Homo sapiens: one gene and its partners. The protein of the gene in region 2 purifies or fractionates together with the protein of the main gene of each other region. This does not show direct contact. Each region holds a gene or a part of one and is shown on either strand. Other genes may lie near its edges.

Region 1 (3,650 bases), on a different chromosome or scaffold from region 2:
AGTCGCCCAAAGTCTTAGCTCATTTCAGCATCAACCCAAAAGTCCAAATCCAAAGTCTCATCTGAGACGAGGCAAGCCCTCTCTGCCTATGAGCCTAGAAAATTGAAAGCAAGTTAGTTACTTCCTAGATACAGTGGGGCTACAGGCATTGGGTAAATATACCTGTTCCAAATGGGAGAAATTGGCCAAAACAAAGGGGCTACAGCAGGCCCCATGCAAGTCCAAAATCCAATAGAGCAGTTGTTACACCTTAAAGTTCCAAAATGATCTCCTTTGACTCCATGTCTGAATGATAGCTTTTGGACCTATAGGATTCATGTGGCTTGTAGAAAATTTAAAACTTCATTGTGCCTCGCATTATATCTTGATTGGACACAACTGATCTAAAGGATGACTAGAGCTTAACCTAAAGCAGGGTGAGACTGAAGTGGCAATGGAGAGAAGAGATGAAGGGTGAGTGTTCTGCATAGGGTACAGTGTGTGCAAAACTACTGAGGCAAGAAAGAACCTGACATGCTCAAGGAAATAAAACGAAAGCCTTGCAGGTCACATGAAGGATTCTGAACATTTTCTAAGACCAGTAGGAAGAATTGAGGTTTTAAAATAAGATACTCAATTTTCAAGGAGTTTAATTGTTAGTTTGCAGTTAATAAATGAGGGCAAGAGAACTTCAACTGAATATAGCAAGACTTTCAACATTGAAGCTCCCCAACTCCCTAGGATGGTGGGGGAGGGGCGATTTGGTCAGTGGAGGAAGCAGGACGCTGCCCATCACCTGAACCTAACCCTAGGGTATGAGGCATGAGCACCCCCCACTAGAGAGAGAAGCAGTGTCACCTGGGAAGAGGTCGTTTTCAGTTCAGATCTTTTTCAGTGCAATTGACACTCAAAGCTGAGTGGGAGTTTGAGGACAGAGCTAGGAATTCTGCAGGGCACCAGCAAATGGTTTGGTGAGGGAGGGCTGTAAAGGTGGGTCAGGGAGAAGGAAGCCCAGAGCATTATGGGGATTAGAGGGTCTGTCCTTTGAAAGGCTGTGTTGGGCAATAACAGGAAAGCTGGTTAAGTGGTCCAGACGCTTGGGTTCTGACCGTCTCCTGGGGTATAGTGGCTGTACCATTTATCTGTGGCCTAGGGGAGGTTTCCCTTTAAGTCAGAGGTCATAAGCTAGCAGCCACGATCTAGCCTGCAGAAGAAATGTTTTGTTTCACTCACATTTTACAAATATACATTAGTTGCTAATATTTAAATCAGATATCAGATAAAAATACACGTTTTCATTTTTTTTTTAATTGGAAGATCTAGAAACCTCAGTTGCTCAGTATCACAGGGCAATGGGCTGGAGCTAAGTAGTAGGTACTCCTTTGATTTTTTACATGAATTTTTAGGAGGTTTTGAAATGATTGTTTTAGCTTTTTTAAAAAAGACATTTATTTACTCAAAGTTTCTCTGTGGTCTGACTCTAAGTCTTGCATTCATCCTAGTCTTCGATGTCAGCAATCCCATCTTCTTTTTGTTTTCCAGAAAAGTTCTAAGAACAGTGCTGTTGGCTCAGTGAGATGAGGTTATCGGAAAACTTTCTGTTTACACAAGAGTTGCCTCCTTCAAAGAAGCATGCATGGTCCTTGCAGGTCACTGTGCCCATCACTCTGCATAGTCCAGCTGCACTCTGCTTCACACAGCTGCCTGCCCATTGCAGGCATTTGAGTTTGCAATCCATGCCTTAAACTTTAAATCACACTGGCTACAGCGTTGTGTGTTTCTTGGTAAACACTGGGTAAATCAGCTCCTGTGGATGTTGACTGAAGTTTCTATGTTTGCAAGCTAATCCTCAGCAGTTTCTTTGTAAGTATCCAGCAGTTAAGTGGGAAAAGTCCGTTGATAGTACTAGGGAGGAGAGAGGAAAGTGACCTTTTGTTTTCTTGAGATAGACATACTAGTTTAGTACTTTATCATGTATTCACCTGCGTAAATGTATTCCTGTGCTTCAGAGTGAGGGAAGGATGCATATTTGCATAGTTTTTGTGACTGCAGTACTGTTCCTCTGTTCTGGTGTGTGTGTGTGTGTATTTTTTTTTTAGTAAAAAGAAAACAGAACTTTGTTTTAATGCAGTAAGCAAATATAGGAGAATAAGATACCACAAAGCTTGGTGGTGGGTGCCTGAGTGTCCATGTTGCTATTACTACATTGTTTTGTCCCCTTGATATAGTTTATAATCAAAAGATGGTGGAAAGGTGCTTCTGTCTACAAAATTTGTCTAACCATGCCCTTCTTTAACTGAAGAGAGAATGGCTTCATTAGCTTATGGAGGTTTCTCACTTGACAAGATAAACTGAGGGTGAAGGTAGAGGAACAGTTGATAGCTTCTTTTTTCTCCATCCCCCTCCTCCACTACCAATAACAAAACAAAATGATCAATGGTTACAAAGGGTAGATACAGTTTTTGATGGAGCTGAGGCTTCTACTACTTGGTGGATTGGGGCTTTGTAAAGAAACACTGCAAAAATATCTTCCATTTGCAAATTAACACACTTACACACACCCCTCCGTGTGTGTGTGTGTGTGTGTGTGTGTGTGTGTGTGTGTGTTCATCACCTGGTTTCTCACAGGTGAGGGGCTCTGAAGCTTGAACTTTGTTAGATTCATGACTATTCTGCCCCTGGGCACAGGCAGTCATCTGGCAAAACACTGCCTAGATACCTTTTGTTCCCTTCTCTGTTCTGCCACCCTGATGCCTCTTCTAGGCTAAGGACAGAGACATTGGGCTTCCTCCTTGGGAATTCTCAGCTCTGTGGGATGCTTTAATCTGGGTCCTGAGCCCAGGCTCTTCTGGTTCCCTGGCACTTCCCTGCTGCACATGCACAGCAACCTGGTACTTAACAAGAAAGGAAAATCATCATCCTAACTGCTGTAGCCTTTCAACTTCAGTCATGCACCACCTAATGATGTTTCAGTCAAGCATGGATCGTGTAAATGATGGTGGCCCTGTAAGATGGTAATGGAGCATATATAGACATCTGATATGTGGCACTTGACATTGGCATTGCAGATCGAGTAGGGGAAATGACTGATATTCAGTAATTGTGCTGGGATACTTGGCTTTCCATATGAAAAAACATAAGTAACAATATGTATACCATCTAGGTTTGTGTAAGTACATTCTATGTTGTTTGCACGACAAAATCACCTAATGATGCATTTGCCAGGACATATTCCCTTCATTAAGCAACACATGACGATACTTGCAAATCACCTCAATTTGATTTCTTTCCTTAAGTCCTCTGTTTGCCTTCCATTGAAATATAAAGCCTTATTTTAAAGACTGTTTTCCCTTCAGAATCTCTAGGAATTACTAAAGAAAGGTAGAAACTAGATCTAGATTCCAATCAATTTTGCCATTGATTGTTATTTTACTGTGGGTGACTCACAGTTTAAGTGGGAGAGAAAATCTCCAGTTAATGGAAGTTGCCAAGAGTGGCAGAAGACCAGGCTGTAGTGCTCGTATAATCTTTACAACCCAGTGTGCAAAACACTGGAGGAGAGATGGAGAGGCCGGGCGTGTAAACCAAGCATGTGTCAGTGCAGATGTGTCCACCACAAGGAGAGAGAGAGGCGGGCTGAGCAGCCATGTCAGCAGATTCTCCGAGGATGG
Region 2 (3,650 bases):
GACTGGAGACCCCCTTAGATGGAATCCAGGTCCCCTCTCTGCTATCTCCAGGGCTAATAACTTGACCGTGCCTCAACTTCTTCAGGTGTAAGTCATGGTTCCCACTCCCGGGGCTGTGTGTGAGGTGAGCAGTCCCCTATCAGTGCTCTTCAGGGCTTGGGAAATGTCTAGCGCCTGGAGTTGCGGGGGTATCGCAGAGGGGTGCCTAGTGTCTGCACACACTCATTTCTCGACTGCTCTCCTCTCTGGCCCCCGAGGGCTCACCAGAAGAGGAATGGGAGCAGGAGTAGTGGCTCTCCAGGAGGAGGAAGGCTGTGACACTGCGCCCCGACACCCACCACCCAGTGCTCTGCACCTAGGATGCCAGAGCTGTTTTGGGCTTGGATTTCTCTGCAGAACCAGGTAGCTTTTTATGGGCCCAACTTGGGAGAAGCTGGGGCTTGGAACCATACCCGAACGAAGCTGGCTGGAAACCAGCCCTCGCCATCGGCGACCCGGCCCCACCACCACTCTCTGTTGGTGGCATCCATCACTTCGATGACGTCCCCAGCTTTGAAGCCCAGCTCCTGGTCGTCCATGGTGACATGGTCCCAGAGTGCTTCAGCGCAGACCACACTGCCATCGCTGATGAGCTGCCGAGAGAGCCACGGGCAGGCGGGTCAGTGGGGGAGGCTGCCTGGGCCTCCCTGCTCTCTGTCTCCACTCCCTCAGCAGCCCTGGGAAGAGGGGATCCTGACTTCTTTACAGAGGAGCTGACAAGGCTGCCTCTGACAGGAGCAGGGCTTTCCTGGGGCAGGGGCTATGTTCTGGGCATGTCTAGATTATCAAGGCTCAGTGATGGAGCCGGAAGTGAACTGACCACAGAATCTGATCCTGTCACTGGGACTGCCAACTGCTCCCTGTTAGCATTCCCAATCCAGAATTCCTGGGGGCTGCAAGGCTGCAGGAGGGAGGGGCTGGGCACTGCAAGGCTGCAGGAGGGAGGGGCTGAGGGCTGCAAGGCTGCAGGAGGGAGAGGCTGGGCTGCAAGGCTGCAGGAGGGAGAGGCTGGGCGCTGCAAGGCTGCAGGAGGGAGAGGCTGAGGGCTGCAAGGCTGCAGGAGGGAGAGGCTGGGCTGCAAGGCTGCAGGAGGGAGGGCCTGGGGGCTGCAAGGCTGCAGGAGGGAGGGGCTGGGCGCTGCAAGGCTGCAGGAAGGAGAGGCTGAGGGCTGCAAGGCTGCAGGAGGGAGAGGCTGGGCTGCAAGGCTGCAGGAGGGAGGGGCTGGGGGCTGGTGCCCTCCTGTGGGCTTCTTGTGGATGAGCATTGCCTGTAAGGTCAGCCACCAACCACAATGCCCCTTCATCCAGGTAGACAGTGCCCTGCCATTGGAGTGATTGGAGCTTGTTTACTGTGTGTTTTTCAACACTTGCAGAACCAACCTCATGGCACCCCTGCTCCCATCCCAAGCCCCAGAGATGCCAGCACCAGCTGAGCAATGCCCCTTCTTAGAGCTCTAGGTCCCAAGCCCTGTGATCCTAAGTTTGAGTTAGTCCAACCTCTTCTCTTCATTTCCCAAGTTCTAGGAGAAGCAGAAACGTTTTGCAGCTGCTACCTCTGTGACAGGCACTTCAGGACTGCTCTTATGCAGTGTTACCCAGTCAACCACATTATACCTAGCCGACCATTCTTCACATGCTTCTCTCTGCTCAAATAACCAGCAGAGTGCCTTGCTCCAGAGTGGTGTGGACTAAGACACTGGACGCTCCCCTGCCTCTCCCAGGCAGCCCTTGTACGCCATGGGGCTGACCCCTGCTTTCTCCTAACATGGGATCTGTTTCTGCTCCCTGAATGATGAGCAGTTCTAGGGCCTTAGGGCAGGAGAGGAGGAGTGGGCTGGGGCTGCACAGGAGGTGAGGTCCACGACCCTCCCTGCTAGGACCAGGTGTTGGCACTGGCTGTCACAGCTGTGGGGGCGGTCAAGGATGGGAATGTCACAAACAGGCCCTCCTCTGAGCTCCCATCCCAGGAGCCCTCCTTTCACTTCACTGGGTACTCCCTAAGCACTGTGTGAATCCTCACCTCAACATGGAAACCAAGAGTGGGGCCAGTCCTGTGTTCCAGCTAAGAGGCCTCTGCCTGAATGGGCAGGGTGAGGGCTGGGGCTGGCCACTGGAGCACTGAAGCTCCAGAGCCTGCTTGGGATGGTGCTTTCCTCCAGGGGTCCTGAGCAAGCAAGTTCAGGGAAGGACAAACCTTCTCTTTCCTGGGGGTAAAACCTGCTCCAGTCCTGATGGACGCTCTCCTCAGAGTGACACATGAGCCTGTGAGCCCAGGAACCCTCACAGCGCGGCAGCCACGCGGGGGCTGCAGACCTCCAGAGGCCTCCACGGGGTCCCAGGCACAGAGCCCTGGGTTATTCCTGGGGGCAGCAGGCTTCCACAGGGGGCCACTGCTCTCATTCCCAGCCACAAAGACCTTCTGCAGGTGGCCTCCAGATCATGAGCTGCTGCTGCCACTCAGATGAGATGAGACAGGAGGGCTCAGGCGACCATATGGTAGGAGCCCACCAGCCACAGTGGGGAGCTGGCTCACCCCGCTGAGGCCCTGAAGAATGAGGCTCCAGGGAAAGAAGGAAGCAGACATGGCGGTCTGGGGACACCAGTGAGAGCGTGAGCTGTAGGTGACATGGCCCTGACCTGGGGTCTGTGACACAGGCTGTCAGGAGGTGACCCGACACACTCAACATGGCTCATTTTCCCACTGCTTCCCTTCTCAGGAGGTTCCTGCCTGATATTAACCAGGTGAGGTGTCACCCTCTGTCTCTAGGTTCCCTTAAATGAGCCCTGAGCAGAAGCCTGGTGCCCCCATTCCCCTTTCCTTTATGCTGCCTGTCCCTGCAGGTGGGACTGGGTCCGGCATAGGTGGCCCCCCACATAGCTGCCAGGGAAGGTCACCAGGTGTCGGGCAAGAGGAGGGCTTCACAGAGAGGCCAGCTTCCAGGCACCATTAGGGACAAGCCCCACACTTGTCCTGCCCAGTCAGCTGGAAGACCTTGGGGAGGAGGGGAGGAGGTGTTAATTGCCTTTGTCGCACCCTGGCAGAGGGACACGTGCCGTGAGCAAGCTCTCCTCCTGTGTCTCCCACCAATGTAAGGATGTCAGCCCCTTCTGCACAGCCTCCCACTCGGGAGGTACTCTAATTTAGAGTTAGGAGAAATGTGAACTGTTTGTGTTGTCACCAAGACAAAATGTGGCTCTGTGAGGTCAGAGACAGTTTCGTAGGACATCAGAGTCATGCTCCACCTCCGATGCTATTGCGCTGGGTGCGTTTCTGGGCAGAGGCCCTTTTTGGTGCTCGTAGGCACAGCTGCACCTGAGCCAAGACACAAGCCAGGCAGGCCCAAGGGGCAAGGAGTCCAGGCTGCCTCTCTGCCTGCAGGGAGCGGAGACTGACTCTTGAGACACAGCAGGGCTGTGAAACTGGCTGTTCTATTGTGGGAGAAGGTCCCAATGGAGGTGCACATTTGAGACTCAAATAGCCCAGGGCAGGGAGCGGGATCCCCTCCTGTGCCTCTGAGGTTCTGACAGCCTCCAGAAGGGCAACGCTGCCAGGCTCTGCCTCCAGCTACTCCCTGTGACCGCCACTGCCCTCCCCACCCTGCCCACCTACCA
Region 3 (3,650 bases), on a different chromosome or scaffold from region 2:
ATCTTGGCTCACCACAACCTCTGCCTCCTGGGTTCAAGCAATTCTCCTGCCTCAGCCTCCCGAGTAGCTGGGATTACAGGCATCCGCCACCACGCCTGGCTAATTTTTTGTATTTTTAGTAGAGACGGAGTTTCTGCATGTTGGCCAGGCTGGTCTTGAACTCCCGACCTCGGGTGATCTGCCCGCCTCGGCCTCCCAGAGTGCTGGGATTATAGGCATGAGCCACTGCACCCAGCCAATTTTTTTTTTTTTTTTAAGAAAAAAAAAATGGAGACCGGGTCTCGCTATATTGCCCTGGCTGCTCTCAAACTTCTGGGCTCCAGCAATCCTCCCACCTCGGCCTCCCACACTGCTGGGATTACAGGCATGAGCCACTGCACCCAGCCTATTTCTTAAATGATGGATCATACGAAAGAAGACAGCACTCCCATGAGCCACTGCACCCAGCCTATTTCTTAAATGATGGATCATACGAAAGAAGACAGCACTCCACCTCAGCCCTCCTATCTCCCATATTAGTGTCACAGCTTTAATGCCACTTTTTTCAGTGTTGAGGGTATTCTCTAACCTCTCGCCCCCTATTATGAGTCCCATATCTCTTTGCAATATTTATTTGCAATAATTTAGACGTATTTAGAATGGTAATTATTTAATGTCTGGTTTTTTTTCCCCACTCCAACAGCAAAATGTAAGCTCTATGTGGGCAGGAACTGAATATCTTTCATTGCTAAACTGAGTATGTGACAGATGCTTACTAAGTATCTGTTGATTACTTGTCATACCCTCAAGACACTTGTTGTATCTCCTGCTTCCTCACTTACCCACTATCTTGTACTTATCACTAAAATCAACACTTTCAGAAGACATCAAATCCCTCTCCCTTTGAATAAAACACAAATTTGTGAGCTCACTGCCATCTTTTCTCCAATTTCTTCCCTGAGGTCTAGTTGGGCCAAGTTATTTCCTTCTCCTACTTCTATTTTTGATTCTTCTTATTAATAATCTATACTTTCACTAATTTCTCTTTCTCTTAAGGCCCATAAAGTAGATGCCACCATGCCTTCTTAACTGACTTAAGACAATTTATCTGCACATCAGACTATCCCCTAACAGCATTTCTCTCTTTTGCATCAACTTCAAAAGGCTAGAAGCTACACTATTCCATATAAGTATATGTGTGGTTGTTTCAATTAATTAAAATTAAAGAAAACTTAAAATTCCCCTTCTTCCAGCTATAGTTATTAGTAATAAGCCTAAATTTAATTTCAAAGATTTGGTAAATAAATATCAAATGTATTCCATTCATAACTTTTATGATTTTGAGCTTTCAATCATATGCCCTTGAATGTTGATCTTTTCTGACCAAATCTCAGCTTCTTATTTGGTCTGTCTGCATGTGAAAGCCTCTCCTTATGCTGATTTTATCAGCTTTCTTCAGACTTTATCCAGTTCTAACACCTCACAATGCTTTATACATTGCAGACAATCAACACATCTTAAAACATGAATATAGACCAGGTCAACCTGATATTCATCTTTCTTGATGAGTACTTGGAAAAGAAATGTCTACATATGTAGAAAAAAAAATCCCTGAAATACCAATAGAAACTAGGAAACAAAGACACCATTTACCAGAAAGAATCACAACAGAAATAACTCTTGCAATGTGTGGAGTGATATATTTATAATGGGAAAAATTAGTGAACCAATTTAAATGTCATAATATAAACAGTATGTTTCATTACTTTTTACATGTCTCAACCTAAAACTTGGAAGAACCTGAAGTAAATGGTCAAGTCAATGGATTTCTTTTTAATCCTACAAAAGTGAACTCTTGCACTCAGTAGAAGCCCAATAAATATTTGTTGTTGAAATTACAATATACTATACCGAAAGAAGTAACCTAACATTGTAACAGAGAACAATAGGATTTTGTTATCTAGGTAAGGAAGTTAAACATAACAGCAGGTAGCACAAAGGAATCAGCTTAGCAATAATAAATTTCAGATTATGAGGAATAGAAAACATTACAATTACATATAGAAAATACAAAGCTAGTGTTACAGCTCTTTTAGAATTTGTCTAGTAGGCTTTCCGGTTTTTGCAGGAAAGCCCCCCCAAAAAGAAAATACAAATCTTACCTGAAGATCTTCTGAGAATATGATAAGTAGGAAAGTACTTAACCTAGAGTAGGAAAGTATTAATAAAAGAATTAGGCTACAGATTTCTTTCAACCTTAACTTTCTCCATACACTAGAGTATAGTGAAAAAGCAAAGTATATGTAAGATCTTGAAAAGAGATAATGATAAACTAAGTTACTTCCTCACAAACAATCTGGATTCAGGAAATTTGTCTTCTATAGCTTTTGTGACTTTTCATAACACATCACACAGTACTCTACACATAGCAGATGGTCAATACATATTAACTAACTGATTCTTGGTAAGGATACTCCTGTTTGGGCTTTACTTTATCTTTCAGAACCAAATTAGGTGGTTTATCCTGTTCTTTTTCATACTCCTTGAAATCACTCTTGGTGTATTTCCCACCTATTTATTAAGAAAAGAAAAAAAGAGCTTAGTAAAAAAACCACCTAACCAAGAACAATAATTATTTTATAAAAAGCATAAGAGCTATTTTATAAATGGCATATATCGAGAGACAGAGAAAGGGAACAAAAGAATCATAGTAATTCCATCTCCATTACTAATTTGAAATCAGACATCCATTTTTGCTAGGTAGCCACATGCTGCCACCTAACGATATATGTGAATATTACAACATCAAACTTTCAAATAAATTACACACAAATGCCGTGTTCAAGTAGAGCCATTGAGCCCATGAGAACATTAAGTCCAGTGGAAAACTGAGGATTTGGGACCTGAGTTTAAGATCTGAAAGACCTAAGTTTGAGAGAAGTGAGACTTTAAGAGACCTTTTAAAGATCTAACGAGATAGTGTGTGCCTGTAATCCCATCTACTCGGGAGGCTGAGGCAGGAGGATCGCGTGAACCTGGGAGGCAGAGGTTGCAGTGAGCCGAGATCGTGCCACTGCACTCCAGCCTGAGCGACAGTGCGAAACTCCGTTTCAAAAAAAAAAGATTTAACAAGAGATACTCTGCTAAATGGCAACAGAGCATCAGGCAAATAGAAGAGGGCAGGATGTGCAGAAGATCACCAAACAGCTGTGAGAGGAGAGGGTGGGTAATAGCACCAAAGACAAACTGTCTCTACTTTGAAATTCTAACTTAGGGGCAACTTCATTCCTCCCAAGTGCCAAAAATCCCCTCAGGAAAATAGGACCTACTGCTACATCCTAACTAGCTTGGTAGGGCTAGAAAGGAAGAGCATTCAATGCAGCCTCTCTACTCTCAACTCTAGTCTCCTATCAGATGAGAATTCAATTTTCAAGTCTCCTACCAGATGAGAATTCAATTCGCATCCATGTCCCAGACCTGTTGACTGCCCTGCCTTTCCTATCCCTCAACCACACCACTAGGAAATGCTGTTTGTAGAAAGGCTTCCTACAGAAGGGTCCTAGATTAAATGTAGAAGTAAAACAAACTGGAGGTACAGACAGAGGTTTTGACTGAGAATCCTATGTGTACCTTGATTGTCAGGGTTTTAAAGGGGGACCCATAGGGTAAGC

The links.
Region 1: the proteins of ARHGEF4 (region 2) and BPGM purify together in Homo sapiens (affinity purification with mass spectrometry; one large-scale study listed by BioGRID and IntAct). This does not show direct contact.
Region 3: the proteins of ARHGEF4 (region 2) and PPIL4 purify together in Homo sapiens (affinity purification with mass spectrometry, with the first as the bait; one large-scale study listed by BioGRID). This does not show direct contact.

The regions. Positions count from the first base shown.
Region 1 is NC_000007.14:134,656,827-134,660,476, forward strand, and holds part of BPGM (bisphosphoglycerate mutase), read left to right. Parts: intron 1-1,267; exon of another isoform or gene 1,268-1,884; intron 1,885-3,650. UniProt on the Homo sapiens protein: Plays a major role in regulating hemoglobin oxygen affinity by controlling the levels of its allosteric effector 2,3-bisphosphoglycerate (2,3-BPG). Also exhibits mutase (EC 5.4.2.11) activity.
Region 2 is NC_000002.12:131,035,835-131,039,484, reverse strand, and holds part of ARHGEF4 (rho guanine nucleotide exchange factor 4), read right to left. Parts: intron 633-3,650; coding exon 453-632; intron 1-452. UniProt on the Homo sapiens protein: Acts as a guanine nucleotide exchange factor (GEF) for RHOA, RAC1 and CDC42 GTPases. Binding of APC may activate RAC1 GEF activity. The APC-ARHGEF4 complex seems to be involved in cell migration as well as in E-cadherin-mediated cell-cell adhesion.
Region 3 is NC_000006.12:149,514,901-149,518,550, forward strand, and holds part of PPIL4 (peptidyl-prolyl cis-trans isomerase-like 4), read right to left. Parts: intron 2,551-3,650; coding exon 2,454-2,550; intron 2,117-2,453; exon of another isoform or gene 2,057-2,116; intron 1-2,056. UniProt on the Homo sapiens protein: PPIases accelerate the folding of proteins. It catalyzes the cis-trans isomerization of proline imidic peptide bonds in oligopeptides.